7 separate regions of the Homo sapiens genome follow, and all the other regions are linked to region 4. Evidence: fine-mapped expression QTL. A gene starts in region 4. Each other region holds a variant in brackets. All regions are shown on one strand. Distances are from middle to middle.

Region 1 (4,064 bases), 100 kb before region 4:
AGACAAATAAATTTAGAGGACTTCGCTTACGGCTCTGGCAATCTTGACCTAAAAAATTAATGAAATGTGTAAAAATGTACTCCAAAAATTCCAGCAATATGCTATTGGTTAGCTTATGCCTTTATTCCCCACCTCATTCCAACAATATGAAATTGGTGTAGTTTTGTTTGTAAAGAAATGTCAGGATAGGCAGGATGTGGTGGCTCACGCCTGTAATCCCAGCACTTTGGGAGGCCAGGAGGGCGGATCATTTGAGCTCAGGAGTTCGAGACCAGCCTGGCCAACATAGCAAAACCCTATCTCTACAAAAAATACCAGAAAAATTAGCTGGGCGTGGTGGTGTGTGCCTGTAGTCCCAGCTACTTGGCAGGCTGAGGTGGGAGGATTGTTTGAGCCCAGGAGGTTGAGGCTACCGTGACCTAGGATTGCACCACTGCACTCCAGCCTGGGTGACAAAAGTGAGACCCTGTCTCAAAAAAAAGAAAAAAGTCCGGGTGTGGTGGCTCATGCCTGTAATCCCAGCACTTTGGGAGGCCAAGGTGGGCAGACCACCTGACGTCAGGAGTTCGAGACCAGCCTGGCCAACATGGTGAAACCCTGTCTCTACTAAAAATACAAAAAAATAAAGTTAGCCAGGTGTGTTGGCATGTGCCTGTAATCCCAGCTACTCGGGAGGCTGAGAGGCAGGAGAATCACCTGAATCTGGGAGGTGGAGGTTGCAGTGAGCCGAGATCACACCATTGCACTCCAGCCTGGGTGACAGAGTGACTCCATCTCAAAAAAAAAAAAAAAAAAACACAGAAATGTCAGGATGAGTAAGCTGAGTACAGAGTAAAACTTGACATTAAGAAGAAAATCTGCCCCAGCTGAGTGGCCAGGGGAACCTCAGCTCCAGCTGTTCATTGTGTTGGGCAGCAGTGGTGGGAGGGGTGCCGGGGTGCTTTGCAGAAAAAAGAATCGCAGCTGCAAATACAAATTGCATATTCCTAGACCTTTGAAAGATAACAAAGACTTCTGCCCTCAACTGATGATGTCCTGTGTTAAAATCACTTGGCTAGGTAGTTAAAACTGTTTGAAATGACCTGGTCACTTTCTGATGTGGACGTGCAATACACATGTAAAGCTGGGTACCAGATTTGACTCTTGTAAACTTCAACCAGGTAGTTTTGAAAACACCCTAGAAGTGAACAACCTTGAATGTCCTGAAGATGTGGGAGTGTTCGACAAGATTCAGGCAGCTGCAGAATGAGGACGGTTGTCAGTGGGTGACGTGTTCAAGCTGCTCAGGCCCCTCACCGGGATGAGCAGAAAGGTCAGCATTTTCTTAGCCCAGGGAGGCTTAGTACTCTTGAGGCAAAGAAATCCTGCAGCATAAGTAAGATCCAGCGCAGAGAATACCCGAGGGTGAACCGTGATGAGAAGTCTCAGAGCGCACTGCGTAATTACCACGTGTAGAAAGCAAAACGTTGACAAGACACGGCCGTTAGCAAAAAGCCGAACGGTTACTACGCTCAACGAGAAAAGGAAACTGGGAGGGTTGAAAAAAAGAAACGAATAATTGGCAAATTCCAAGAGGCTCTTTCAGGA[A/G]GAGACAGTTGGGTGGTTTTGTGAAAGCAGAGGTGACTCTTGGACCACAAACATGAAGCCCACAGGGAGAGCCGGGTGAAAAAGGAAGGACAGAAGCTAAACAGCCAAAGAAAACCCAAAGCGTACTTCAGACATGCCAAGGCCAAGAGGCTCTGTATCTAAAAAGGAGCCCAAGTGAGTAGGACCAGTTGGAAGGCACACTTAAGAGTGTAAGCAAGACTCACAGGAACCTACTGTGTCTCGCCTTGGACTTCAAGCTGATGCTAAGATGGCGTTTCACACCCTGAGTGGGGAAACGAAGGAAACTGACGGGGGTGCTGAAATTAAACATCCCTCCTCTGGACCTCCAGGCTGCACCCCACCCTCGGCCACATCAATGGCACAGGACTTAAAACTGGACGCTCTCTATCCACTGGTAGCTCATGCATTCCAGAATCAACCTACACAGATCATGCTCCTCCCTCAGTGCCTGAGAGTTCTGCACAGGACGCTCTCAGAATCTAGAGGCTCCAGGCTGGGGCCAGGTCCAAGTCCCAGTTGACACCTCAGTGCCTGAGTGTTCTGCACAGGACGCTCTCAGAATCTAGAGGCTCCAGGCTGGGGCCAGGTCCAAGTCCCAGTTGACACACTATCTCCAGCCCAGGCCAGGGCTTCCCTGGTAAATCAATCTCTGAAGGCAGTCATGGTACCAGCCTCAGTTTTATTTATTTATTTATTTATTTATTTATTTATTTATTTATTTATTTAGAGAAGGAGTTTCGCTCTTGTTGCCCAGGCTGGAGTACAGTGGTGTGATCGCAGCTCACTGCAACCTCTGCCTCTTGGGTTCAAGCGATTCTCCTGCCTCAGCCTCCTGAGTAGCTGAGATTACAGGCGTGCAACCACCATGCTCAGCTAATTTTTGTATCAGCCTCAGTATTATTTTAAAGGAACTTAAAATGGTTAAACTTTAAAATGGGGTGAAATGAGGCAGTCCCCAGGATGGCCAGACATTTATGGGGCTGTAAGGTTCCCAATGTGATGCCTGTCCGGGGAATGACTCCGGAGAGTCCTGGGACCCAACTGCCACAGCGTCTCCTATCTCTCCTGGGAAAACTGGGAGGATGGATAAGTGACAGTGGAGGCAGAGAAACTTCAGTTTAGCTGCTCAGCATTTTCCCTAACTCACTCATGATAACTACATACCCAGTTCCATCCTAACTCGGAACAGCCAGATCCCACTGAAAACCCTGGGTCACTGGAACAGGAAGACAAGAGCCACATTTGAAACTGCCTCTGCTCTAGGTCATCAGCTTTCTCTAATTTGGTGTCCCTGCCCCATCAGCTCTGTGCAGAAGAGCACATTGTGGCTGGGGGTTAAGAACAAATAAGACAGTGCTGGCTGTGAGACCCTGGCTGGGTTACTTAACCTCCTTGAAACTGCAGAACAAGGATATGAAGGCATGACTTCACTGGGCTACTGTGAGAATGATGAGAATAATGCATTAAGCCCACGGCAGGGTGCCTGGCACACACGGAGCACTCCGGGGAGCTATTGTTCTCACTCCTCATTAGAAGGGACAAACCTGAGATGAAGCTCTTATTTGGCAAGGTCTGGGTGATCTGGTGCACTCAGGCCTCTCAATTTATATGAAAAGTCAGAATTCAATTAAGGGAAGATGACATAAACCCAAGAAAAGCCTGCTAGAGATTTGCCCAGGAATAGCCCTCTCCCCTGTCACCTGCCTGATGGGGAGCTGCTGAATTTTCACAGCATCATCCTCAAGGCTCTCACAGATCAGAGCAGAATCCCTGACCCCAGACCCGGAATCTCTAAATTTGCGTGTGACCTCCTCTCCCTTTGTGGCACATGAAGATTTCTAGTGATCTCTCCAGGCAGAATACAGTATTCCTTCCTTTCCCTCACCGCCACCGCCATCAGACGCCAATTATATTCAATGTTTTCCTTAAAATGCAACATGAGACCTATCGTTGAAGTCTTGCACCAATTTTCTCTTCTTATCCCCAAACTCAGATTTGCACAGCAGGCCGCCACTTTATAGACAAAACGGTGCGTGGAGTTTGAAGCACACATATATGCCTATGACTCTTTAAAAAAAAAAAAAACGCTTTGAGGTATGATTGACATGAACAACTGTACATATTTAATGTATACATTCAATGAATGTAAATTCAAGGAGGCACCAGACGAGAGTTCTGGAGCTCCGTGAGGGTAGCTAAGGAAGCAAATGGGATGGGCTCTGCCAGGCTTAGGAAGGAAGAGGTGGTGTCTGAGCACTCACCTGGACTTCTGCAAGGTCAGCAAACACAGGAGCAGTCGCTGAGCAGCGGTGCAAACACACCAGCTCTCCAACGGGTGCTTCACTGCACTTCCCTGCAGAGACCATTCTAAACCAAACTCAGCGCCTGGGAAGGCTCTGCCCCTCAGGATCTGCCCCTCATCCTTGTGGCCTATTGCTGTCGACCTGACTGGATGG
Region 2 (4,064 bases), 280 kb before region 4:
AGGGTCTGGGAGGAGAGAGGATCCTCCAAAGCCCTTAGAAAGAAAGATGACTCCAGAGTGCAGGCACAGTTCTGGGATTCTCCAGCTAAGAAGCCAGCCAGGGGAAGGTGGGAAATCCATCCCATTTCAGATAGAGACATAGAAACACTGCAGGACTGTGGAGCTCCTGCTGGGAACTAGGGAGGCTACTGCACTGAAGGCAGGCAGGATCACCCTATCTGCAGGCCTGCAGCGGCCTCAGGGAGGAATCCCAGCCGGGCACTGCCCTACCTGGCAAAAAAGAGCCTTTCTCTGTGGGCGCGGTGGCTCACGCCTACAATCCCAGAGCTTTGGGAGGCCAAGGCGGGCGGATCACTTGAGGCCAGGTGTTCAAGACCAGCCTGGCCAACGTGGTGAAATCCCCCGTCTCTATTAAAAATACAAAAATTAGCTGGGCGTGGTGACGCGTGCCTGTAATCCAGCTACTGAGGTGGCTGAGACATGAGAATCGCTTGAATCTGGGAAGCAGAGGCTGCTGTGAGCTGAGATTGTGCCACTGCACTCCAGCCTGAGTGACAGAGCGACTGTCTCAAAAAAAAAAAAAAAAAAAAAAAAAAAAGGCTTTCTCCCAAGAGACACAGGAAAAAGGCCTCCGGCCTCCTTATACAAGGGAAGGCATGAAAGCCAGGATGTGCATATGTGTGTAACTATCTAGAAATAAACTCAAGGCCCAGACAAGGCCCATCAGAGAGGCACGTCTGTTCTGTGTAGCTCACTTTGTTTTTGGATAGGCAGACAATCGGGACACCACACTGGAAAAACAATGAGGGGGAGGGATCCTGCCCACCCCTTGGCCAGCAGCTGGCCTCTGGCAAGGTACTGTACCCCTTGGAGCCTCAGTTTCCTCATCAGCAAGTGGGTATAATAACATATTCTTATCTTGCAGTGTCTGAGGATCGCATGAGATAAAGGACTTGAAAGAGCCCAGCACGGGGCCACGGACCCAGTGAGTCTATCTTTCCTTGACTTTGAGGTTGTTTTAAACTTGAGTCATAAGTTAAATGGATTTTGGAGTAAGCTGAATAATATCATACTTTGTCCTAAAAAAATGACTCTGTGTTCCTCATCTCCTTCCAAAAAGCATGTCAGGAACTTATAATAAAAGGCAATAAAACCCTTTACGAGGGTAGAAAATAAGAGCTGAGTAATAAAGTGTGTATTTGGCAGGGTCTCGGGTGATTACACACAGAAGCCAGGCTAAAGGAAGCTCCAGCCATTGAACTCAAAACAGGCTTCAGCTTCCAGAAGTCAAGGCAGAGAGAGAAATGAAGGGTGCTTCTTGCCGGTGAGCGCTAAGGAGTGTATCTGGAGGGTCTCTGCGTAAGGAACTCGACACTGCAAACCAGTGGAACAAGGAGGCAGAAAGCCTGCGCCCAGCTCCAGGGAGAAGAGTCTGAGGCCTGGAGAAAACGTGCCACTGCCTCCCCTTGGGCCCAGTTGGCCCGGGGTCCTCTTGGTGGTGAGCCAGCCTGGCTTCGTCACCATGGCCACCTTGTGAAGTTGCTTAGGGGCTGGGCATTCATTCGTTCGCTGTTCTGTGCATTTACATGCCTGGGGGCTGCCCGTGCTGAGTGTGGGGCGATACCTCTTGGACAAAACCATTAGAGGTTTTTTTGGAGGAGATGCTTGAGCTAGGCTTGAAGGACAAAGGGTAATGATCTTGGGGTGGGAGTCCAGGTAGAGGAGGAGATGTTCTGGGTGCGGGAAGACATAAGAGTGAAGGCTCAGAAGGTGGAGAGCCCTGGACATCCATGGTGAGGCTGGAGGTGGGGACATGGCGTGGGGGGTGATGAGAGCTGCAGGAGGTCACGGCAGTGAGAAGAGAGAAGAGGACATGGGTCCGAGACATGGAGAAGGAGGCTCATGGGGACTTGGCGTGGGCAGGGAAGGGATCGAGGATGCAGCCAGGTGTCTACACAGGGAAGCAGGTGGCTAGATGCCTCCTCCCTGTGACGGGGAAGCCCAGGGAAGAAAGCTGGGGGAGATGCTGGCTTCGGCAGGGCAACGTCCAACCTCGGGGACCCGGAGGAGAGGATGTGGCTGGAGGCAGGGAGAGGACATGGTCAGTGTCACAGCAGTGGGAGACTGTGGGAGAGAGGAGAGGAGACGACCAAGGGAGATTCATTCACGGGGCAGGTGGGTCCCGTGAGAATGGCAAAGGAGCCCGGGTCACAGATGAGGGAGGAAGCGCAGGGAGGAAGCGCAGCCCAGACAGCCGGGACTGCCCAGCATGGGGGAGTGGCCAAGGGTGGGGGTCAAGAAAGAGAAAGACAGCAAAGCATCCAGTGTGGCCATCAGAGGTCAGCATGACTTTAGCTAAGACGATGTCAGAGGGGCTTAGGGAAGTCCCTG[G/A]GCGAAGGGGGCAATCTGCTGGGGACTGGGTAGGGGGAGTTCTGGGTGAAGCAGAGACAGCAGGAAGGAAGGGTGGTGAATACAGGTGCCTCTGTGGGCTGCAGGGAAGGGAGGTGGGGGAGTCTCCTCCTGGCGGCTCTGCCAAGGAAGGACAGGCCACGTCTGGGGAGGGATGAAACCCACAGGAGAACCCGGTTGTGCTGAAGGACCCATGGGGGAGGGTGTGGCTGGCGGAGTCATCACCTTCTGCCTCAGAGAGAGGGGGCTGCTCTGGAGTGGGGGACTAGGGGCCAACAACGAGGTTCGGGGGATGACTGGGGGCAGAGGGGACAGTCCTGGAATTGTGAATGCCAAGAAGCCCCGGAAAGGCAGTACTGGGTGCTGCGGCCTCAGGAAACGGCAGCTGGACTTGGAAGGGGGAGGAGCACCTGCCCAGGACCAAGGCATGACTCAGGGTGGGCAGCAGGTGGCCAGGCCCTGCAGTCAGAGCCTGGGGCCATGGTGGCTTCCAAGCCTTGGCTTAGGAGCTGAGAAAACCTGGGACTCACCAGGGTCGCCTCTTCTCCCAGGCTTGCCGCGCCGTCCAGGGGGCCCTAGACAGGAAAACAAGAATGCATTCATTGAGAAGGGAAGCCAGTGGACTTGGCTGCGTGGGGCATGCCCCAGCCACCCACCTGTCCGCTCGCAACAGCTTTCTGGGAGTGGCCTGCCCGAGGGGGTCTGCTGGCTGTGGAGGGGGAGATGCGTGGGGAGAAACCCCTTCCTTCTGCCACTACCTCGCCTGTTCCGCCAACCCCCCTCCCCAGGTGGCCGCATCCCTCATGCCCCACGCACCCATTCTGTCATTCAATCATCGGCTCACTCAGTCATTCCTAAGCCCTCCCCTAATCACAAAGATTCCCATGGGAGGCTCCTGAGGCAGATGCGTTTGCAGCTGAGAAACTTCAGACTTAGGAGGAAAGTAAGGGTGGGTTATCTTAGGAAAGCCCTGACAAACGCTGCTTCATATTCACTAAAGTAAAACAACAAAGCCAACACAACAAAGAGGCCATCACGGCCGCGCAGCGCCGAAATCCACTCATGACAGGCACTACACGATCCGCCTGCAGTCTCCGCCACTCGCTGGGGCCTCCAGCTCCTCCTTCCCCAGAGCCAGGGAGCTGCTCAGCCGCCTTCTGGGCTTCCTGTCCACGTCTGTCCTCCATCCGCGCGCTATAAGCCCTTCTGAATTTACGGTGCAGAACCCCCTACCTCCGCCTCTGGCCCTCTGCCCACATCAGACCCTGAGACCAGAGTAACCTCAGCGCTGAAGGAGACGCTTTGACTCTGGCCGTGGGAGCAGAGGTCTGAGGCCTCCCTCTCCCTCCCCTCACCTCTGTGGCGCTCACTGCCATCCTTCCTGGCGCCCCTTCTCGCCCCTGTTTCAGTGAAGTTGGGTGCAGGTACAAGATTGCAATGTGTAAATGGCATTTGATACGTCTTGCTCACCCACTGTATGCCAGGATCTGGGCTGGGCCTGGAGGCGACAGTGGGACAGGTTGTGACCCTATGACAAGGCACTGCCCTTTCCTGCAAAAGCCAACCTCAAACCCCGTCAAGAATTTCCAGAACAACCACGAAGGAGATGCAGGAGACTGGCCCCGATCGCGTCTGTGGCAGGATGGAAAAATGAG
Region 3 (4,064 bases), 110 kb before region 4:
CCCCTTTTCTTGCTTGTTGGCTGGGGGCCACTCATACCTCCTGGAGGCTGCCCACAGCTCCTGGCTGGGAGGACCCCTGCGAAGGCCTCTAATTCTTCGAATTCCTTGGACATCGTCTATCTCTGATCTTTAGACCCAGAATCAAAGGACTCATGTGATTAGGTCAGGCCCACTCAGAATAATCCCCCTTTCGGCAAACTTGAAGTCAACTGATTAGTAAACTTAATTACAATTGGTGTGGACACAACAGTGACTCCATCTTGGACGCTAATCTGCCATGTTGAATTCTGATTAGCCCTAGTCCTGTGAATGTCCCCTGATTTCTACTTTGTTTACTGTCCCTAGTGTAAGAACATGTCAACCTTGATGCTACTCCACAAATAATAGGCGTCATAATAGGAAATGGCGCATACAGCATGCCTGCCGTTCTGTAGGGCTGCCTCCCACTGTCTCCCTGGAGCACATACCCCTTTCCCAGCGGTATAAGAGCCCTTGGTCTGTTGAGTAACAGAGTGGAGATCTACCTGTCCTGCAGCCACCCAAGACCACGCTTCTGTCTGTAAGTTCCCCAATAAATCAACCTTTACTGACAATCTGGATTTGTGTGCCTCTTCTTTGGTTTTTTGGCTCCTTTGGTATTTGGGGGCCGCTTTGCCCTTTCACTGAACAAATGGCAAATTCCCTTATCTATATAATGTAACATAATCATGAGAGTAATACCGCATCATATCCACGGACCTGCCTACACTTAAGGGAAGAGAATACAAAGCGTGTGCGCTGGGGGCAGGAATCTCGGGGCTGTCTTAGATTCTGCCTGCCGTGCTCCTCTTCCACTGTGGCGCTGTAACCAGCAGCATTCTGTGAACTCCACAAGGGCCCTGGATGTGCGTGGTGTGTGCCTGTCAACAACATGGGCGGGGCCACTTTGGCCAGATCAGAGACAGTGCCAGGGCCCACTGGCTCTGTGCCAGCCACCATGCTAGGGACCTCCTAGGTGCAATGTCATCTCATCCTCCCTTTGGTGCAGACACTGTTAACTTCTCTGTTATGCAGGTGAGAACACTAAGACTCACATGACTTAAACTACTTCTCTGAGATTCCAAATATAAAGTGGTAGAGCCAGGGTTTGAACCCAAAGTGTCAGAAAGTCAGGTTTCCAATCCTAGCTTTGTTATTTTCTACCTGTGTTACCCAACTCCTCTGGCCTCACTTTGCCCATCCCTATAGTAGGGTTAACAGAATATGTGGCTTCGGATATTCTCAGGGGCTGTGGAAGGGGCTCTGTAAGCAATGACGGCTGGATCTGCCTCATGGAAACAGTAAAGCGCCATAAGAGGCTGAGAGATAGCGGCTGTTGACATGACTTTGAAGCACTTTTATTTCTATTTACTGGAAGAGGTTGTTTTCAGGGCAACCCAAGGATTCAGAAAACAACGAAACCATGAAGTCATCTTGGGGCTCACAGAGCTCTGAGCAGGAGAAACAGGGACTGGGGTTTGGGGAAGGCATCAACTCATGCTATGGCAGAGGCAGAGAGGCTTGTCAGGCATGGATCTTCCCTGCCCCACTGGAGTCACAGAATCTTCTAGTTTTACCCATATTTATGCAGGGTGCTGAGTCACCAATGTAACCCAGCAATCCATCTTGACTGAAAACAAATGGCTTGTTTAAATGAAAAGCAGACAGCAGAAGCAGAACGTCCTCAAAAGAGTGTCTTTCATGTCTCCTTATTAGGCGCCAGTGGGTCTTTTAGACAGTTTGTACCCAA[A/G]GGGAGAAGTGGTTAATCACTGTGCATGTTGCCTAATCAGGAAGCAAAAACCTTGAAGGACACCCGAAGTTCGTGTTAGAAATGCAAAACAGCCTGAACCCTCTGCGAGTGAAAACATGTATGTGTGCAACTGTCAACGTACCCCTCCTTCCTTCCCGCTCTTCCCTGGAGAAGGTAGAATAGGGAGAGGAAAGCCTTGTTGAAATACAGCCCGAGTCATTTGCTTCACAGGCTGGGATTCTTTCGGATGCTGGTGCTAATGGGTGAAGTCTGCCACTCTGATGCTTGCGAGAGCCGTAGGAGGTAGGAGTGATTGACCCCATTTCACAGATGAGAAAATTGAGACTTAGACAAAACTAGACATGAGAAGGCAGGTGCCAGTTATCAGAGAGGCAGCCTCCTCCTAGGCCCTTCATGCCACCTGAGGGAGGTCCCAGGGTGTGGGAGGAGGGAGCATGGGATTCTAGCCTCGGAGAGAACAGGCAGGGAAGAGGCTGGGCCTGGGTGGGGCGGTCCTGCAGGGCCTCAATCAGTTGAGCCAGACAGTGCCTGCGGGCCCCCGACAGGCCTCCCTGAACCTCACTGGAGCATTAAAGATGAAAGCCCCTTCCGAGCTCTGTACAGGAGATTGATGTGTGAGATGGGAAGATGCCATCTTCACCAGGGCTTGGCCAGGAGAATCAGTGGGTTGCCAAGATGCCTGGAGGGTCAGGAGAATGCAGTGAGGGGTTGAGACACCTGGGAAGCAACCTAGGGTTATCCGGGACTAACTGGAACAACTGTTCCCCTGGGCTATGAGGAGTCCACTGCAGAGGAACTGGCCTCCAGACTCAAAACGATAGTGCCATTTCTTATACAACCTACATGTCACTTCTTCATTGCCCAGATTCTGCATATTTTCCTAGCTCTGTTCCCTTTTACTTGGAAGTTGTGCTTTCCATCCAGTATCCCCCACACCAGCACTGAGGCCCACAGTCCGGGAAACATCTGGGTGGGCTCCCCTGAAATGGGTCCCAGCTGGGCGGCAAACGTTTCCTGTGCCTGCCAACCCCTCCCTTCCTGTGTCCACAGAGAGAGTGTCTGGAGAAATCAAGTTAATGTTTTCAATTAATATTTGGGAAAAATACCCGAGGCCAGTTGTTTTATCTTTGATGCCAGATATTCTTGGGTTTAAAGCAAAGTAGCCAGGAAAGACACTGATGGGCCTTTTGAGGGTACCAGAGCCTTCTGGGTGCCCTCTTGCTTCAGAGAAGACTCTATGAGAAGACTTACCCCAGAGGATAAAGGCACAGAGATCCTGGCTCCAGAAAGGCATGCGGCACAGACTCTGCCAGAATTTCTGGATTCGGGTGCCATACTGGGCTCCAAAATGCTGTCAGTGTGAGAAGAGGAGCTACTCCTAAAAACATTGAGTTTTCTTGTCACCCTGGCTTCCTGGGCCATGTGAGGCCCAGGGAGACAGCCATGTGCCAGGGCAGCCATCTCAGTGGCCCAGGACCTTCATCAGGACACAAGGATCACCCTCATGATGATGATGATGATGATGATGACCGTGGTAATGACAACAGCCAACACTCACAGATACTTAACACCATCAGGCGCTTTATGTGCAGGATTTCCTAGAAAGCAAGTACCCTTATTCATACCCATTTTACAGCTGAAGAAATGGAGGTTCATAGGGGTAAAGCCCCCTGCCCCAAATCACACAGCTATGGAGGTCGGGAGCCAGGACCTGAACAGAGGCTCTCACTCCCACGCCTGTGCTCCTAACCACAGCAACGAAAAAAACCCCGAGCTGCTGCCCTGATGTCCCTCCTGCCTCCTCTACTGGGCAGCTTCTCTTATCACCTGCCATGGAGATGCCGGCTCACCCATGCGCCACAGCGGCCGGTGAGGCTGCTCTCCCCTCCAGGTGTCCACAGCTCTTTAATACACCCCAGGAAGACACATGGCTCCTTCAGACCAGAGTACATGGGACCCGTTCCCAGGAAGTGGCCAGAGGGAGTCTGGGAAATGCCAGGATGAGATGATACATGTTAGGGACAAGTGGAGAAATGTGAATTGGGGTTGAAATTCTGTAATATTAAGGATTCATGTTAATCTTAGGTGTGATAATGACGTTGTGGTTATGCAGGAAGGAAAAAAAAGCCCTAATCCTTGAGAGATGAACAACAAAATACTTGTAAGTGAAATATAAGGCGTCCGAATTTGCTTTAAAATATAGTCATGCCTCTCTTAATGACAGGATGCATTCTGAGAAACATGTCCTTAGGCGATTGTGTCATTGTGTGAACAT
Region 4 (4,064 bases):
CACACACCCTGTCCAATAACTCATTGTTCAAGCACTGTAGTTCACCCAGGTAAAATTCAGTGCAGCCGGGAGGGGGGAAGCCTGGGAGAGCAACTGCAGTCTCTCCCGCTGAAGTTCAGGACTCAAAAATCAACACTTCCCAGCAGTGGCTGCCTGCCCAGGATGCCCCTCCCTCCTAAAATAGACACAATTTGTAGTTCCTTGTAAAATGGTTGTATCAGGACTTCTGATTTACTCAATCAGGGCTTGCGGTTTATTTTTAGCAAATAAGAGAGGCCTCCTATGAGAAAGAGCAGCCACACTTATAGCGCTAACAGGTAGAAACTTTACTGGCCCTCTATAAATCAATTCAACACCCTGGTCTCCAGGCATTTGCCAAAAGCTAATGGGCGGCAATTATGAAACCATCGCCAGGAGTTTCCAGCAGGGCTGAGAGAGAGTTTTAAGTCTGCAGGCCCTTTCAAGGGTAAAATAGGAAATCATTTCATGAAGCAGCAATTTTACCCAGAACCCAGCTAGAAGAGATGTGATCCTAGCTTAAATTAAAGTGACTAAGAAACAGGTGGGGTGAACAAGGAGGTGTGGTACGCAAGTCATCTTCTCCCACTTTCCTTTGGAATCCAAAGGAACTCAACATTGGAAACACAGCTGGATACGTTAATAAAGATCCCAGCTGGGCAGTCTAGGGAATTGGGGGTGTACAGGCCAGTGCTCCCTCTCCTCCACCTTGAAACCCTGCCTGTTTTCACACAGCAATTGAGGATGCGCCCTTGGACAGCGACCTTGGGGTCTGGAGCAGCCATCTATCCCAGGAGAAGGAGGAAGGCTCGGCAGGGGAGGCTCTGGCCAGCCCACCAGGGCCTGTCCAGTTTCGTGGGGAGGGGAACTGCCGCACATGCCGCACACAAAAGGCGGAGGCTTTGACCAACATGCTGGGTGAGGGCTTGGAGGACCCAAAGGTGGCTCTTTCTTTGAAGACACACAGCAGCAATCTTAACCCTTAGAAGTGTCACAGAGCCTCATATGAGCTTTCAAGTAAGCTGTGGAAGTCGCGATTCCCAGGTAAGGGACGGGAAACTCCGGATGTCCTGCGAGCCCACACCCCAGATGGCACCGCCTGAAACCAGAATCCAGGTCCTCCACCCCCGATTGTTTCTCCTTCCTCTCATCTTACCAAGTCATGTGGGCGCCCCCACCCCCATCCCCGAGGCCTCAGTGCGACGGTGACCGCTCAGTCTTGGGGCCTGAGCTGCTGGAGACACACTGGAGCACAGCGGGGCCCAGCCCTCGGGCCTGTCTGAGGCTTTCCTCCGCCGTGACCACCGCCTCTCCAGGTGTACCAGCGTTGGTTAGGAACAGTAGGTGCTACTGGTCACAGTCACCAGATACTTCCCACGAGCCTCATCTTTATCCCCGACTCTGGCCGCCGGCGGGAAGCGGCGTGTCCGAGCGCACACCCCGTGGAGACTGACCCTAGGTCTGTTACTCCAAAGTCCCTGGTCTCTCCTTCCCCTTTCTCGCGGCCGCCTGCCTGGCACGGGACCCTGAGGCCGGAGCGGAGACCGCAAAACCCCTTGGGGCCGGCACCCCCTGCCTCCGCCTTGGCGCAGACGTGCCCATCTCTGGGACGGCCCCGAGCGCACGCAGCCGGCGGGCGACCCTCCTCCCAGAGACCTGCACGCTGCCCCCGGCTCCCAGCGTACCGCCACCCTCAACCCGACACACCCAAGTCCGCCCCAGCCACGCGCCAAGACGCTCACCTCCCGCAGCAGGCGCTCCAGGTGCGGCTCGGCCCAGGCGTCCAGGGCGCCTGGCGGCCCCGCGCGCCGCAGCAGCTCCCGCTCCTCCTCGAGCGCCGCCACCCGGCCCTGCAGCGCGGCCGCCTGGACACCCAGCAGCAGGCAGGCAGCCGCCGAGCCCACGGAGAGCAGCAGGCACAGCGCGCTCACCGCCCGGGACCCGGCCGTCGTCGCCGAGCGCCCTCCGCCGCCGCCGCCCGCCGCATTGCCCTTCCCCGCGTCGCCGCCGCCACCGGCGCGCTCGCCTGGGCCCATGGCGCGTTCGTCGCGCGTGGACTCTCCGAGGGGGCGGTGCTGCTGGGGCAGAGGCTGGGTGCGAGAGGAGCAGGCGGGACAGCCCGAGGCACGAGGTCCGCCGGGCGCGGGGGTTAGCCTCCGGGTAGCAGCGGATCGCCGCGCACGCCCCCTTCGCCGCAGCCAGCTCCTCCACAGCGGCCACTTTGGGCAGTTTCCTCTATGCAAATAGACCCTGCCAGAAAAGGAGCAGGGACCCACCCAGGGGAGGAGCGGCCGGGCTGGCCCCGCGCGGCGAGGGGGCGGGGGCGAGGAAGGAGCGAGCTCCTCGGAGCCACCCGTCGGCGCCGGGCTGATCCCACGCGCAGCGCGCACCTCTGCCCTCACCTAGCCCGGGCGCCGGCACCCGCCCCCGCACGCACCTCTGAGGCTTCCCCAGCCCAAGCCCGCACTGTGGACCCCAGAGGTCGGAGGGGAGCCCGGCGACACCGCGCCCCTTCTGCAGCCCACCCCTGGCTGGAGCACCCACCACTCGTGCCTTAGCACATTCCTCTAAACTTGTGAATTACCTTTCTGACACTTGTAAAAGTTCAAAACTTCAAATCCTGCAAAAAACTGAGTGGGTCTGTCCTCGGTGGTGGATTAGCGCCGCTTCGTGGCGGAAAGCGACCTCTGCGCACTCACATTTAGAGAGGCAGGGTCGAGATTGCGCCAAACAGAAATACGCCCCTTAGAATCTTCTCACGAGTTCTTAGCTGCCGGACTTCGGTGCGGGAAACAAAAATGGTAAGACTGTTTCTGGCCTGGAGAGGGCTTTTGAGAAAACTGAGACTATAACGAATGGGAAAGATTCAGAAAATGAACTTCAAGTCTTGTTCAACTGATGACTTAATTCTGTATTAGACGCACAACTTGGCCAAAAATTATGATCTAGTATGCACCACACTTAACCTGTACTGCGATTCTGCTGCAAATTTAAATCACAGGGCTGAGGCAAGAAGGCTGTGGCGTACAGCCTGGGTCCAGAGAACAGAATGAGTGGCACTAACAAGTCTTGGCAGGAAAGGGAAGAACTGCTGGAAGTCAGGCTGGGTTCAGATTCCTACCAGGCATATTCATGTCCTAAATGGGTCCCAAGTAACTCTTTCGCTAACTCCTGTAATACCTAAATGAAACAACAAACCAGCAGTTCAGATCTTTGTGATTTGAGTAACCCCCCAACCATTTTTTTTTAAGAAAAATAACGTTATATCCATCTTCCCTCTCACTCTGGATATCTTCTGGTTGTCTCATTTCTGTGGATACTCACCTTTTAGAACTGTTGAGTGCCTCTGGCTAACATGTTCCATCTCCTTCCCTTAATTCAGAGGGGAACCCCTGAGATGGCCGGGGGTTATGGTTGATAGACTTGGCTCTGTGCTAAAGTCTGGTGTATGCCCAATAGAATGAAAAGTTGGCCTCATTCTGAAAAGAGGCCAACACCCTCTTACAAGTCAGCACTACATTTCTTACAGGCACATAAACTGCACACCACCTACCTATGTTAATGTTACTGCATGTATTGTTTGCCATGTTCCTGAAGCTTCTGTGTATTGAAAAAGCCAAGCTCACTGGCCCCTGGGCCTCTGCCCTTGCCTACCACCTCACTACCTGCATTCCTGCTCTCAGATCGTTAAACGGCAAGCCCCTCCTCATCCTCCAGGTCAAGGTCCTCAACCTCACTGCTTCTAAAAGATCTTCCCAGACTGCCCAATTTAAGGTGGCCCACAAGATTAATCAGGGAATTGGGGCGGCTGAATTAAGATGGAAATACTGTCTGCAACTCATTCTAAAAGGCGAAAAAGAAAATGACTTACTTGTGTCCATTAGGGTCCTGGAAGAATAGATGGCATCCTCAGAGAGGGTGACTCAAGACAGCCTGAATGTAGAGCCACTTCACAAAGTGGAGATCAGAGGGGCCAGCAGGGGAGGCCGAAGCAGCACTCTGCGGGTATTGACAGTGGGAGGCCATTACCATCCCTAACTGGGAAC
Region 5 (4,063 bases), 350 kb before region 4:
GCCTGGGTCCTGCCGAGAGCCGTGTGGCTTCCTGCCTGATGTGACACTGACTCTGGCCTGGGTCCTGCCGAGAGCCGTGTGGCTTCCTGCCTGATGTGACAGTGACTCTGGCCTGGGTCCTGCCGAGAGCCGTGTGGCTTCCTGCCTGATGTGACAGTGACTCTGGCCTGGGTCCTGCCGAGAGCCGTGTGGCTTCCTGTCTGATGTGACAGTGACTCTGGCCTGGGTCCTGCTGAGAGCCGTGTGGCTTCCTGCCTGATGTGACGGTCACTCTGGCTCCTCACCCTGGGGCCTGCGAGCTTTCAGGCCTTGGGCAGGAATGGCTCCTGGAGGGTTTTAAGGATGGCCCAGGAATTGGCATCCTGCTCCAGCCTGTGCTGGCTGGAGCAGGGCAGGCTCAGGTTGCTGGGGGTTGGGGCTGGGCCTGGGGTAGGGCTATCTAGCGGCACCTGTGGTGCCCACCCAGGAGCCAGACATAAGCAGGGGCCGGGTTTCCTCAGGCAGCCTGGAGGGTGGGGAAACTGGAGAGGAACGAAGACTGACTCATCAGGGACACCAAGGCGCAAAACATGTCATTCTGTTCCAAAGCACAGGAATGAGCCTCAGACACTGGGCATCCCCTGGAATATTCCCATGTGTACACCAGGGACCAGGCTAGGCACCAAAGGGAAGGTGGGGAGGGGGGCAGAATGGAAAGGAAGCAGAAGCGAGGAAGGCCGGGGCAGAGCCAAGGGCCCTGGCTGCCCCGAAGGCCCACACAGCACACGGCACACGGCACACAGCAGGCCAGGCCGCCTACCGCAGGGCATGGCCCATTGCCCCTCGCAGGGCCCCGCCAGCCTGGTGCCCCTCTCCGGCCTCCGCACGTGGGATTCTCCTGTTTCAAAGGAGACAAGGGCTTACTGATTTGGAGGGGAGTCCTGGGCCAGGCCCCGGAGCTGCGGGGCTGGGCCACCCTGCCCCTGCTGTCCCCGCCCTTTCTGTGCGCTGACCACTTCGCTCTTCAAGTCCTTTTCTCATTGACTTCTCAAAACTGTCCGAGGGGAGCGGTATCCCCCACTGCAGGGATAAGGACACTGAGGAACAGAGGCCAGAGGTCTGGGAGGGGGTCTCTAACTCTGGCACCGCTGGAGGTTGAGGCCGGCCTGCACACATCCCCGTGGCTGGAGTGGCCACGTCTGAATATCTGTCCAGTTTTAGTACGAAAACCCAGCTGTTCTGTTTTTCCTGTCTTTTCTGAGCTCCACCGGAAGAGTGTGACATGTAAACCCTCCCTACTTTCTAGAAAAAGGAACTAGGCAGGGCACAGTGGCTCACACCTGTCGTCCCAGCACTCTGGGAGGCTAAGGTGGGACAATCGCTTGAGCCCAGACCAGCCTGGACGACATTGCAAGACCCCAGCTCTACAAAAATTAAAAATTAGCTGGGCATGGTGGTGCATGCCTGTAGTTCTTGGCTACTTGGGAAGCTGAGGCAGGAGGATCACTTGAGCCTGGGAGATGGAGGCTGCAGTGAACCATGATCGCTCCAGCCTGGGCGACAGAGTGAGACTCTGTCTCCGAAAAGAAATAAATGGAGCTGACTTTTGAACTGTGGTTGTTTCAGGCACCAGTGCCTGAAACCACTGGGGCTGGTGGGCTGCCAAAG[G/C]CCACTGAGAGAGCACAGAAAGAGGTACAGGAAGGGTGTGGGGGTAGGCAGAGGGGATGTGGGGAAGAGGGAGGTGCTGCCCCAGCCCAGAGAGACTCTTCTGGGAAGGAGGAAGGAAGGGGAGGCACAGCCAGCCAGAGAGGTCAGGGTGGTCCCACCGTCTGTGCTTGGGGAAGCTGAGTTTCAGCTCAGCTTGGCCTCAGGCCCAGTGGGAGTCAGACCCCGACTTCCACCCCAGGCAGCCAGACCACAGCGATGGGGCTGGGCACTCACTGCCTCCGCCCCCAGCGGCAGCGTGTCTGTGCTAACTTTGGTTCCCTCCGCAGGGCCCAGCCCCCTCCCAGGGCACCGCTGATGGTGCTGATGACTCCAGGTAAAGCCCCTCCACTCCTGGTCTAGGCCCTGTCCACTTCCAGCCCAAGATGGCCCACAGTGGGTTCCTACTCAAGCCAGGCCTGTCCTGGGGGTGAAGAATGAGGGGCTGGGCCTCCAGCTCTACAGAGGGGCTGGGTTCCCTGAGTCATGCCCATGGTTGGGGGTGGTTAGGACCAGAGCAAGGGGAACCGCGATGATGGCAGTAGCAGCAGCAGTGGCCCTGACAGTGAGGAAGGCCAGTGCGTGACCAGTGGGGCCTCTGGGACTTGCAGCTGAGTTCCGAGGACAGGGAAGATGTTGGGCTGACCCTGGCTGGAGGCCAAAAAGACCTGGGGCAGGGCCCTCCTCCGACACCTACCACGGGACACGGCTGGTCCAGGCCTGGTGGTCCCGGCTCGCCCTTCTGGCCCTTCACTCCTTTCCGGCCGGGGACCCCTCGTTCTCCCTGTGCAGGAGGGGAGATGGTGGTATTGGTCATGGCTGCCAGGCTTAGGAACCTCCAACATCTCTCCGAGAGAAGCGCGTGGGGCCAGCCTCCCCCTGCCTCCGCCCACCTGCCCGGCCTGGGTTCTCTCTACCTGCTTCACCTGAGCCTCCACTCCCACCTGCCTCCTTCCCCCTCTCCTCCTGCCCCAGCTCCCGTCCAGCTGCCCTCACCTTCTCTCCACGCTCGCTCCGATCACCTTTCTCTCCTCGGGGTCCAGGGAAACCCTGACAAAAGGATTAGATGCTAAACCCGAAAATGAGGCTGGAGGTTTGCCCCTCTGTTACCGGCTCATCTCTGTTCCTCTCCCATCCACACGCCCACTTTCCCCCCTGCATATTCGTGGCACACGCTGGCCTAGCCCTAGCTGTAGGTGATACACTGCTGGGTACAAGGCTGATGTAGGAAGAGCATGCATTTACGATGCCAGCTGGGCTTGCTCCAAAGTAGTCGCTGGACACCAACACTCAGGCAGAGCTGCTGGCAAGGGGCTGTCTCTCACATCACAGACGCGGCTGGCACTGGTCTAGGCTTGGCTGGGGACAGAGACCCCGGAAACCATGGAAGTTATGTCACTGTCTGATGGGATGAGAAATGGTGATCTCTGTTCTGTGCCCTTGGCTCAACTTCCTGCACACCCATCTGTCCATTCATCTATCTGTCCGTCCACCCAACCAAGGTGGCTTAACATCCACTAGGAACCGGGCTGTTGGCTGGACACTGGGGACACAGAATTGGATTCATTGTGGCCGGGCATGGTGGCTCATGCCTGTAATCCCAGCACTTTGGGAGGTCGAGGTGGGCAGATCACCTGAGGTCAGGAGTTTGAGACCCACCCTGGCCAACATGGCGAAACCCTAAAAAACACAAAAATTAGCCGAGTATGGTGATGCGCGCCTGTAATCCCAGCTACTTGGGAGACTGAGGCAGGAGAATTGCCTGAACCTGAGAGGTGGAGGTTGCAGTGAGCCGAGATCGCACCACTGCACTCTGGCCTGGGCGACAGAGCGGGACTCTGTCTCAAAAAACAAACAAAGAGGCCAGGCATGGTGGCTCCCGCCTGTAATCCTAGCACTTTGGGAAGCCAAGGCAGGCAGATTGCTTGAGCTCAGGAGTTCAAGACCAGCCTGGGCAACACAGTGAAACCCCATCTCTCCTAAAATACAAAAAATTAGCCGTCCTAGCAGCGTGCACCTGTAGTCCCAGCTACTTGGGAGGTTGAGGCAGGAGAATCGCTTGAACCCGGGAGACAGAAGTTGCAGTGAGCCGAGATCATGCCACTGCACTCCAGCCTGGGTGGACAGAGTGAGACTCCATCTCCAAAAAAAAAAAAAAAAAGAAACAATTTTAAAAAGAGAATTGGATTCGACATGGTCCCTTGTTCACGTGTAACGGGGCAGGCAAGAGAGTGCTGATGACAGTCAATGCTCAGTGACAGAGGTGTGAAATAGGGGTGGTGGGATTCTGGAGGGAAGGGCTGTTCTATCACAGGTGGGGGTCAAGGGGAGTTTCTCAGCACGGTCCTCATTATAGTTGGGCCTTCTGGGGTTGAGGAGG
Region 6 (4,064 bases), 250 kb before region 4:
GGAATGTACTCAACCCCACTGAAATGTTCCATTAAACTGGTTAATTTTATGTGATGTGAATTTCACTTCAATAATTTTAAAAAAGAATCCAGCTAATAGTTCGTCTTCCTTTTGGCAGAGCAATCTGTTTCATCTTGGACTTAACGGTGCTTTTAAAAACAAAAATTAAAAGGAGGGAAAACTGGCTCTCCTAAGAGGGTAGAAGGAAAAAAACAAAAAAAGGCAAAGCTGAAACAAGTGCAACTTTCCTGCAGCTGCTTTTCCAAGGCCTCTGCTATACCGAGGCGTGGGTTTGCACTTGCAAAGAGTAAATACACTCCTCCCCGGAGCCAGCGAGCTGCTCAGAGCGGCGGAAACAGGGATCACGCAGATCTCTCCAGTCTGTCCCTGCCCCCTATTGGAATTCGATTTCCCATGGGAGGGGGGCCTGCGGAGGACATCAGGGAATGTGCAGCATGGAAGTTGCACGTGTGGGCCACGACACATTGCGCCAGGCCGGCCTCGCTCATCTGAGAGGGGTCTGAGTGTGGAGCCATCCTCCCCACAGCCTGCGTGCACTTGCTGGAGCGCAGAGACCCGCGTGTGAGGGCGAGGAGAGCATGCGTGTTCCTGTCCCGGTGATCCCCGGCCAGACCCCGGGAAGGAGCAGAGGTTCCCGTGGGAGTTGGAGCGTTTGTAAACCAACAGATTTCACCCACCTTTCCACTCTGGAGGCGGGCTCTAATGGCACAGTCCAGACGTCACCTCTCCTTAGTTTGAAAATTGGTTCCATAAATTGGAGTGAGTTCAAACACATGAGACCCTTCCAGAAACTGGGCTGACTGCCAGGCTCTCCACACATCCAGAGTGGGTGGAAAGACAGAGAGACGGAGTGGGGTGCAGGGTTATGGAGAGCATCCTTCCAGGGCCAGACTCCCTGCTCTGGGGGTAGGTGGGCTCTGCCGGGCTGGGGGAGGCGCTGTAGAGGGGGCAGGAGGTTGGGGACACTCAGGAGCCACTGCTCTCCCCGCCATCCAGGACTGCAGGCTTCCTCTGTCCCCAGAGACTGAGGCTGCTCCACAGACACCCCCCATCTTCCTGGCACGAAAGCATCACTCACTGTCCACCATTAGCGTCTGGTGATGGAAACAAACAGGCTCATGGGGTCATGGAGGAGTCAAAAAAATGATAATTTTAATCATTATTATATTTTATGATATTATACAATCTATTTGTTTATATATTTTTTCATTATTATTGTTAAAATTATAATCCCTGACATTTATGGAGCAGTGACCTCATGCCAGGCACTGTGTTTTGCGTGTATCATTTCACCCAGGCTCCTGACAACTCCGTGAAGTGGCAGCCACTGTTATCTCCATGTTAGAGCAAGCTGAGAAACGGAGGGGCTGTACTTGGGGCCACACATCTTGGGAGTCTTGGGAGTATGGGCAGGGGAACTGACCCATGCGGTCTGACTCCAGGGTCCATGCTGTTAGCCATGACTTTTTGGTATCAGGTGCTTCTGAAAGTCCCTTGAGCCTTGCCAGGGACCCAGGCAGACAGCACAGCTGGCACAGTCAGACAGACCCACCTCAGAACCAGGCTGGCCAGAGAGGGACGGTGTCAGTCTCAGGGCCTGATCTCCAGGAAGTCCAGAGGGCACAGTCCAGAGGGCACAGTGAGATAGCAAAGGCTGGTCAAGCCCTCAGAATGAAGCCCCAGGGACAGCAGGTGCTAATCCCACAACCCACAGGACTCTCAGCAAGGACTGCCTTCCCGCAAAGAGCATGGTACTGTGGCTCAGGTGCAAGCTGGGGCGCCGCTGCCGTCATCCTGGAAGCCCTTTAATGACAGCAGCGCAGCAGGTTGCTCCCCCAAGAATGGGGGTAGCTCCTGGGTCACCCAGCACCGGGTATGGGGTAGCTCCTGGGTCACTGGCCAGCACCGGGAATGGGGTAGCTCCTGGGTCACCCAGCACCGGGTAAGGTGTTGCTCCTGGGTCACTGGCCAGCATCGGGTAGAGAAGTCGGCTTGTGTTTGGTGGGAACCATGTACTTAAACTCCAGATGATTTGGTTAATGGGGGGGTCCTGGGGAACAGAGACCAGCTGAGGATATGCAGATCCAGGGCATCAGAAGAGAGGGCGACCAAGTGCCCACACAAGGGGGATCCTCTGCCTCTTTTTCCTTCTGGCTTAACAGGAATCTGTCTAAATTACATGTAAACCCGATGAGACTATCACAGCTGAATGAAGGCCAGAGACAGGCTGAGGCTTGTCTCTATCAACAACACATCTTAGGGCTTGGAAACAGAAGCTCAGGGCTGCATGAGCCTGTGGGTCATGAATTCACTGCTCCTGCTTTAGGCAGGAATTCCCTTCCAGCCTCCAGAGGAGTGCTCATGTGTCCTCCCCTTGAACACTTCCCCTGACTGGGAGCTCACTACCTCAAAGAGAGGTTCATGCTGTCTTTGGATAGCTCTGCCTATTAGAGAGCTCTTCCTCCACTGAACTAAAACCCATTGCCTCAGGT[C/A]CACTCAGCACTCGTCTGGGTCCTTGGGGCCATACAGAACAAACCCAACCTCTCCTCACAAAACCTCCTAAGAGATGGACAGGCAAAGCCACGACCACAGTTTCCAGAATTATCTCTACAGGGTGTGTGTTCCTCAAGCCTCCGCCATCCTGAAAACCTTCTCTGGCCCTGCCCCATCCAATACATTCTGTCCCTCTGCACTAAGACTCCCGAAATGAGATCCTTAAGCCTCAGAGCAGAGCAGGGCAGGAAAAACACCTCCCTTGTTCAAGGCATTGTGCTCCTGTTACTACAGCCTCAGATCCTGCACTGACCAGCAGGCAGCTGAAGCCATGAGGGGATGGCGTGGGACTGAGCCTATCCTTGGCTGTGTGGTGGAGAGGCATTCTCACTGACCTCACAGCCAGCTAGCATGTGTGGGGGAAAATAAGAGAAAAATGATGTAAGCACTGAGGATATGTTCCTTTATGCACTGGAGTAAACATGAGTGGGGGGACGTGAATCTGCCAGCGCCTCAGTGGGCCTCACTTCCCACTGCCTTGTATGGGGTGGGAGCCTCCAGCTGAACTCTGGAGTTTGGTGATGAAGACTTTCTTGAACTCAAGGGCTTCTGAATGCCAGCTCTAGCTGCTTTTCCCCAGCACTGGAGCTCTGTGGGGCTGGCAGAGAGAGGAAGCATTCCTGGCTTTCATGGGTAACCTGAGAGATTTTCAGGAGTGATTTGGAACATGTACAATTTTTGCCTTATGCAAGAATAAAAATCCCACCTAAAATGTGATTCTGCAACAATGACTTATGATTAGGTGGTGGGATGGGTGGGTGGCGGGTGGCTGTTGGGGGATGAAGAGATGAGTAGAGGGATGAGGGGTCGATGAATGGATGGACGGGTTAGGGAGATGAATTCTGGTGTTGCCTGTCTCTAGCTGTTTGACCTTGGGCATCTCACATGTTTAGCCATGAGATGGGCATCATACTCCCTCCTCACAGCGTTCTCATGAGGAATGCACCTATGAAAGTTCCTAGGCAGGGAGCCTGCTGCAGGGATGGGCCTGGCTGAGAACAAGGACACCTTTCTGACCAGCAATAAGCCTCACCAAAAAATGTGCTCATGTAAGAAAAACAATTATCCAAGAAGCATGTGTCAGAACAGCTTTGCTGGTGGCTCCAGCGCAGGAGGGGTAGAAGGGGAAATAAAAGCTGGTCTCCTTGGCAATTAACGTTCACTTCTGCTTTTGCCTTAGATACTGAAGAGCCCAGCTCCACACCACGACTCCAGCTACACTCCAGCCTTGAAGGATCTGAAGCCCACAGTGTGGGCTGCTCCGTTTGGTCAGAGCTTCTCAAATCCCTGGTGCATGCGAACCATCTAGGAATCTTGCGGAAATCCAGGGGCTGACGCAGAGGTCAGGAGTGGCCTGAAGTTCTCTCAGGAGAAGCTGATGGTCCCAGAGCACACAGGGAATACCCATCAAGGCTCTGCATGTGTTTGGCTGATGGCAAACTGGACACCGGGGATTCTAGTCCTCGGCCCTCCCAGGGGCAGTGAGGGAG
Region 7 (4,064 bases), 51 kb before region 4:
CGGTCTGCCGAAGGCGGCTGTGGGGCAGCATCCAGCCACAGGGCAAGGCCATGACAGGCGCCTTCTTTACTGAAACTGTGTGTGCAAGTGGTAAAATATACACGGCATGACGTTTACGTGGTGAAACGTGCGCGGCACGACGTTTAAGTGGTAAAATACGTGGCATGACGTTTCCCATGGCAGCCACAAGTGCACGGCTCAGTGGCGGTAAGTACATTCACACTGTCGTGCCACCATCACCACGTCCGCCTCCAGAGCTCTTCAACTTCCCAAACAGAAGCTGTCCCCGTTCTCCCTGGCTAGCCCCTGGCACTCACCCCAGGTACCTCCTATGAGTGGAATCACACAGTATCCGTCCTGTTGTGACTGGCTTAGTCGAATTCATCCACGTTTGCAGCCTGTGCCACAATTTCCTTCCTTTCTGAGGCTGAATCGTATGCTATTGTATGGATATGCTGCATTCTGTTTGTCTATTCATCTGTGCTACAGCTCATCATCATCCTGAGCACAGAGGAGCTGAAGGGGAGATGTTCCTCCCTCCTCCTCACACAAGAGCCCCAGAGGGCTCGTTTACCGCTCAGGGCTGGGCATTCCACCTCTAGGCAGATTCCCGCAGAAGCTCACACTGGAAGAAACTTAACGCCTCTCTACCTAACTGGAGTGAAAAGCTGCTTGTTTTTTTATCTTTCTAACTTCCAGTTTGTCAGGGACCCACGCTTTTATAAAATACACTAAAATGATGGGGTAGAAAAATGAAATTTAAATAACCAAAAACATAAAAGTACTTGCCCATTTTATTAAAAAATTAGATTCAGTAGACATAAAATTACTGTTTAAATTGCTTTCATAAAAGTTTCCACACATTCTCCATTTCTATTCTAATCTTGTTAGAGAACCATAACAAACAGTTCAAGGGCTGGCATCCATTTGCAAACCACATTTTGAGTAGCACAGCCTGGAGCACTGTTTCACAGCAAACTTAAACAACTAAATGCCCATCAATAAGGTAGCTGTTAAATATGCTTTGGTATATCCCTATTATTATTTAGCAATAAAAAATAATGAAGCACGTGAGTTAGCAATTCCAGTCCTAGCTATCTACCCAAGAGAAATGAAAACATATGTTCCCACACACACTTGTACAAGAATGTTCATGGCAGCACTATGCCTAATAAGCAAACAGTGGAAACCCACATGTCCATCAACTGATGAAAGGATAAACACACTGTGGAGTAGCCATACAACAGAACATTACTCAGCCATAAAAAAAGAATCAAGTATGGATACATAGTAGAGCACGAATGAACCTTGACAATATTACACTAAGTAAAAGAAGCCGGATGAAAAAGGCCACATGTTGTGTGATTCCATTTCCATGAGATGTCCGGAAAAGGCAAGGCTTTAGAGAAATTAAATAGATTCGTGGTTGGCAGGGCCTGTAGGAAGGGGCTTAGGGGTTAACGGCTAAGGGGACAGGGTTTCTGTGTGGGGCAATGAAAATGTTCTGAAA[A/G]TAACTGTGGAAGTGGTTGCACAACTCTGTGTATACTCTAAGAACCACTGAATTGCATACTTTAAACAGATGAACCGTACGGTGTCTGACTTCAATCTTAATAAAGCTGTTATGAGAAATAATGAGGCCGAGCACGGTGGCTCACGCCTGTAATCCCAGCAATTTGGGAAGCCGAGGTGGATGGATCACCTGAGGTCAGGAGTTCGAGACCAGCCTGGCCAACCTGGTGAAATCCTGTCTCTACTAAAAACACAAAAATTAGCTGGGCATGGTGACAGTGCCTGTAATCCCAGCTACTTGAGAGGCTGAAGCAGGAGAATCACTTGAACCCGGGAGGCGGAGGTTGCAGTGAGCTGAGATTGCGCCATTGCACTCCGGCCTGGGTGACAGAGCAAGACTCTGTCTCAAAAAAAAAAAAAAAAAAAAAAAGAAAAAGAAAGAAAGGGAAAAAAAAGAAATAATGAAGCAGAGTTCTCTATTAAAACATGTGACTTAATTACTTAAAATCTAAAGAAAATTCTAGGCCTGGATATTTTCACCAGTGAATTCTTCCAAACACTTCAGAAAAAAAGCAACACTAAACCTTACACATTTTTTTCCAGAGAATAGAAATGGGGTAACATTTCCCAACTTGTTCTGAGACCAGCATAACCTTATACCAAAACTGGACCACAGAAGAACACATATTAGACCATCTTTCTATAAAGACCGATGCAAATCCTAAACAAAAGATTAGCAAATTGAATCCAGCAACATATTAAAATAATATATCCCATCCAACTGGCGTTTATTCCAGGAATGCAAGCGTGGTTACCATCCTAAAAATCAATTAATATAATGCACTGTTTTGACAGAAAAAAGGGGGAAAAGTCATATGATCATCTCATAAATTTAGAAACACTATTTGACAAACTGTAACACCTAATCATCACTTTTTACAAAAGCCCTTTAATATTTCCTCTGAGTTCAGTTATGAAACCAGGATGCCTGCTATTTCCAATTCTATTCAGCACTACTGAAGGTCTTAGACAATCAATTAATCAAGTGAAAGAAACAAAAGGCATAAGAATTGGAAAGGAACAAACACAACTCTAATTATTTATAGATGGTATGGTAGAAGATACATGGAAAATCTAAAAATATTAGAATTAACAAGTACATGTGGCAAGGTAACTAGATACAAGACCAACATGAAAAGTCATCACCAACAGAAAGCAAATTTTAAAAATATTATTATTTAATATTCACACAACATTTAAATTCTTACCTATCTACACAAGTTCACACACAAAAAATTAAATTCTAAGAATAAATCTAATAAAAGATGTGTAAGACCTCTACTCTCAAAACTATAAAACATTATCAAACAAAATTAAAGAAGACTCAAATACATGGAGAGAGATACCATGTTCATGAATCGGAGGCCTGAAGAGTGTAAAGATGTCACTCTGTCTAAATTAATACATATTCAATGAATCTCATTCAAAATCTCAGCAGGGTGGCTGGGCGTGGTGGCTCATGCCTGCAGTCCCAGCACTTTGGGAGGCTGACGTGGGAGGATGGCTTGAGCCTAGGAGTTTAAGACCAGCCTGGGCAACACAGTGAGACTCCATCTCTACAAAAAAATCTCTGCAAAAGGAAGCCAGGTGTGTTGGTGAGTGCCTGTGGTCCCAGCTACTCAGGGGGCTGAGGTGGGAGGATCGCCTGAGCTTGGGAGGTCCAGGCTCCAGCGGGCCATGTTCACGTCTCTGAACTCCAGCCTAGGTGGACAGAACAAGACCCTGTCTCAAAAAATGAAACAAAGAAATAATTTTTAAAAATCTCAGCAGGGCTGTTTATCTTTTTTATTTTTAAGGGAATTGTCAAACATTTTAAACTTTCTATGGAAGTGCAAATGACTGAGAACAGTCAAGGCAATCCTGAAAATCTAACCTCTATTCTATTATCAATACTAACTATCAAGTTTTGGGAATTAAAATAACAGTATCGACACATGGATAGACAAATAGAACAGAACAGCAAAAAGATCCAAAAACAGACCTACAAAGCCACCAGAATAACTAAAAGAAAAGAGACAGAAAATCCAAGTGTTGGGGAGGATGCAGAGCAACTGGAATTGTCAAACACACTGGGTGGGACTATCACCCTCTTTCAAAAATGATTTGGGGCCGGGCACAGTGGCTCATGCCTGTAATCCCAGCACTTTGGGAGGCCAAGGCGGGTGGATCACTTGAGGCCAGGAGTTCAAGACCAGCCTGGGCGACATGGTGAAACCCCGTCTCTACCAGAAATACAAAAATTAGCCGGGTGTGGTGGTCCTCGCTGCTTGGGAGGCTGAGGCAGGAGAATCGCTGGAACCCAGGAGGTGGAGGTTGCAGTGATCTGAGACCTTGCCACTGCACTCCAGCCTGGGTGACAGAGTGAGACTCTGTCTCAGAAGATTTGGAACTATTTACTAAACATAACATATGTATACCTTACGCCCAGCAATTCTGCTGTAAGGTTTGTACACAACAGAAATGCATACGTATGTTCACTGAAAGACATATACTAC

Direction of the effects. Alleles are on the strand shown, and positions count from the first base shown. SD is a standard deviation of normalised expression in the study named. Not every link is listed here.
For the expression in whole blood of the gene that starts at base 2,250 in region 4, allele G in region 1 goes with a lower level than allele A (moderate effect, 0.54 SD a copy in GTEx).
As copies of G replace A in region 2, the expression in thyroid of the gene that starts at base 2,250 in region 4 goes down (small effect, 0.26 SD a copy in GTEx).
As copies of C replace A in region 6, the expression in sigmoid colon of the gene that starts at base 2,250 in region 4 goes down (moderate effect, 0.68 SD a copy in GTEx).

The links. PIP is the estimated chance that this variant, and not a neighbour inherited with it, causes the effect.
Region 1: its variant is fine-mapped to the expression of COL23A1 in whole blood (TOPMed, PIP above 0.99). The same link has a PIP of 0.9 or more in blood mononuclear cells and monocytes.
Region 2: its variant is fine-mapped to the expression of COL23A1 in thyroid (GTEx, PIP above 0.99).
Region 3: its variant is fine-mapped to the expression of COL23A1 in blood mononuclear cells (TOPMed, PIP above 0.99). The same link has a PIP of 0.9 or more in whole blood.
Region 5: its variant is fine-mapped to the expression of COL23A1 in whole blood (TOPMed, PIP above 0.99). The same link has a PIP of 0.9 or more in blood mononuclear cells.
Region 6: its variant is fine-mapped to the expression of COL23A1 in sigmoid colon (GTEx, PIP above 0.99). The same link has a PIP of 0.9 or more in transverse colon.
Region 7: its variant is fine-mapped to the expression of COL23A1 in blood mononuclear cells (TOPMed, PIP above 0.99). The same link has a PIP of 0.9 or more in T cells and whole blood.

Annotation. Positions count from the first base shown.
Region 1 is chr5:178,485,003-178,489,066 of GRCh38, forward strand. All of the region lies in intron 2 of COL23A1 (collagen type XXIII alpha 1 chain), which reads right to left. Among named protein-coding and RNA genes, the nearest start is that of COL23A1, 100 kb to the right of the region's middle. The variant A/G (reference allele first, on the strand shown) is at 1,588.
Region 2 is chr5:178,303,936-178,307,999 of GRCh38, forward strand. It overlaps COL23A1 (collagen type XXIII alpha 1 chain), which reads right to left. Exons shown (of 29, transcript NM_173465.4): 3 at 2,940-2,984. Among named protein-coding and RNA genes, the nearest start is that of PHYKPL, 73 kb to the left of the region's middle. RefSeq lists an enhancer at 2,504-3,015. The variant G/A (reference allele first, on the strand shown) is at 2,392.
Region 3 is chr5:178,475,808-178,479,871 of GRCh38, forward strand. The region is part of intron 2 of COL23A1 (collagen type XXIII alpha 1 chain); the gene reads right to left. Among named protein-coding and RNA genes, the nearest start is that of COL23A1, 110 kb to the right of the region's middle. The variant A/G (reference allele first, on the strand shown) is at 1,769.
Region 4 is chr5:178,588,144-178,592,207 of GRCh38, forward strand. COL23A1 (collagen type XXIII alpha 1 chain) reads right to left here and starts at 2,250. Exons shown (of 29, transcript NM_173465.4): 1 at 1,761-2,250. The coding sequence starts at 2,054. RefSeq lists an enhancer at 696-1,596 and a silencer at 2,252-2,451.
Region 5 is chr5:178,239,662-178,243,724 of GRCh38, forward strand. It overlaps COL23A1 (collagen type XXIII alpha 1 chain), which reads right to left. Exons shown (of 29, transcript NM_173465.4): 26 at 2,680-2,733; 27 at 2,381-2,467. Among named protein-coding and RNA genes, the nearest start is that of PHYKPL, 8.9 kb to the left of the region's middle. RefSeq lists an enhancer at 1,204-1,323. The variant G/C (reference allele first, on the strand shown) is at 1,648.
Region 6 is chr5:178,336,669-178,340,732 of GRCh38, forward strand. The region is part of intron 2 of COL23A1 (collagen type XXIII alpha 1 chain); the gene reads right to left. Among named protein-coding and RNA genes, the nearest start is that of PHYKPL, 110 kb to the left of the region's middle. The variant C/A (reference allele first, on the strand shown) is at 2,514.
Region 7 is chr5:178,537,630-178,541,693 of GRCh38, forward strand. The region is part of intron 2 of COL23A1 (collagen type XXIII alpha 1 chain); the gene reads right to left. Among named protein-coding and RNA genes, the nearest start is that of COL23A1, 51 kb to the right of the region's middle. The variant A/G (reference allele first, on the strand shown) is at 1,511.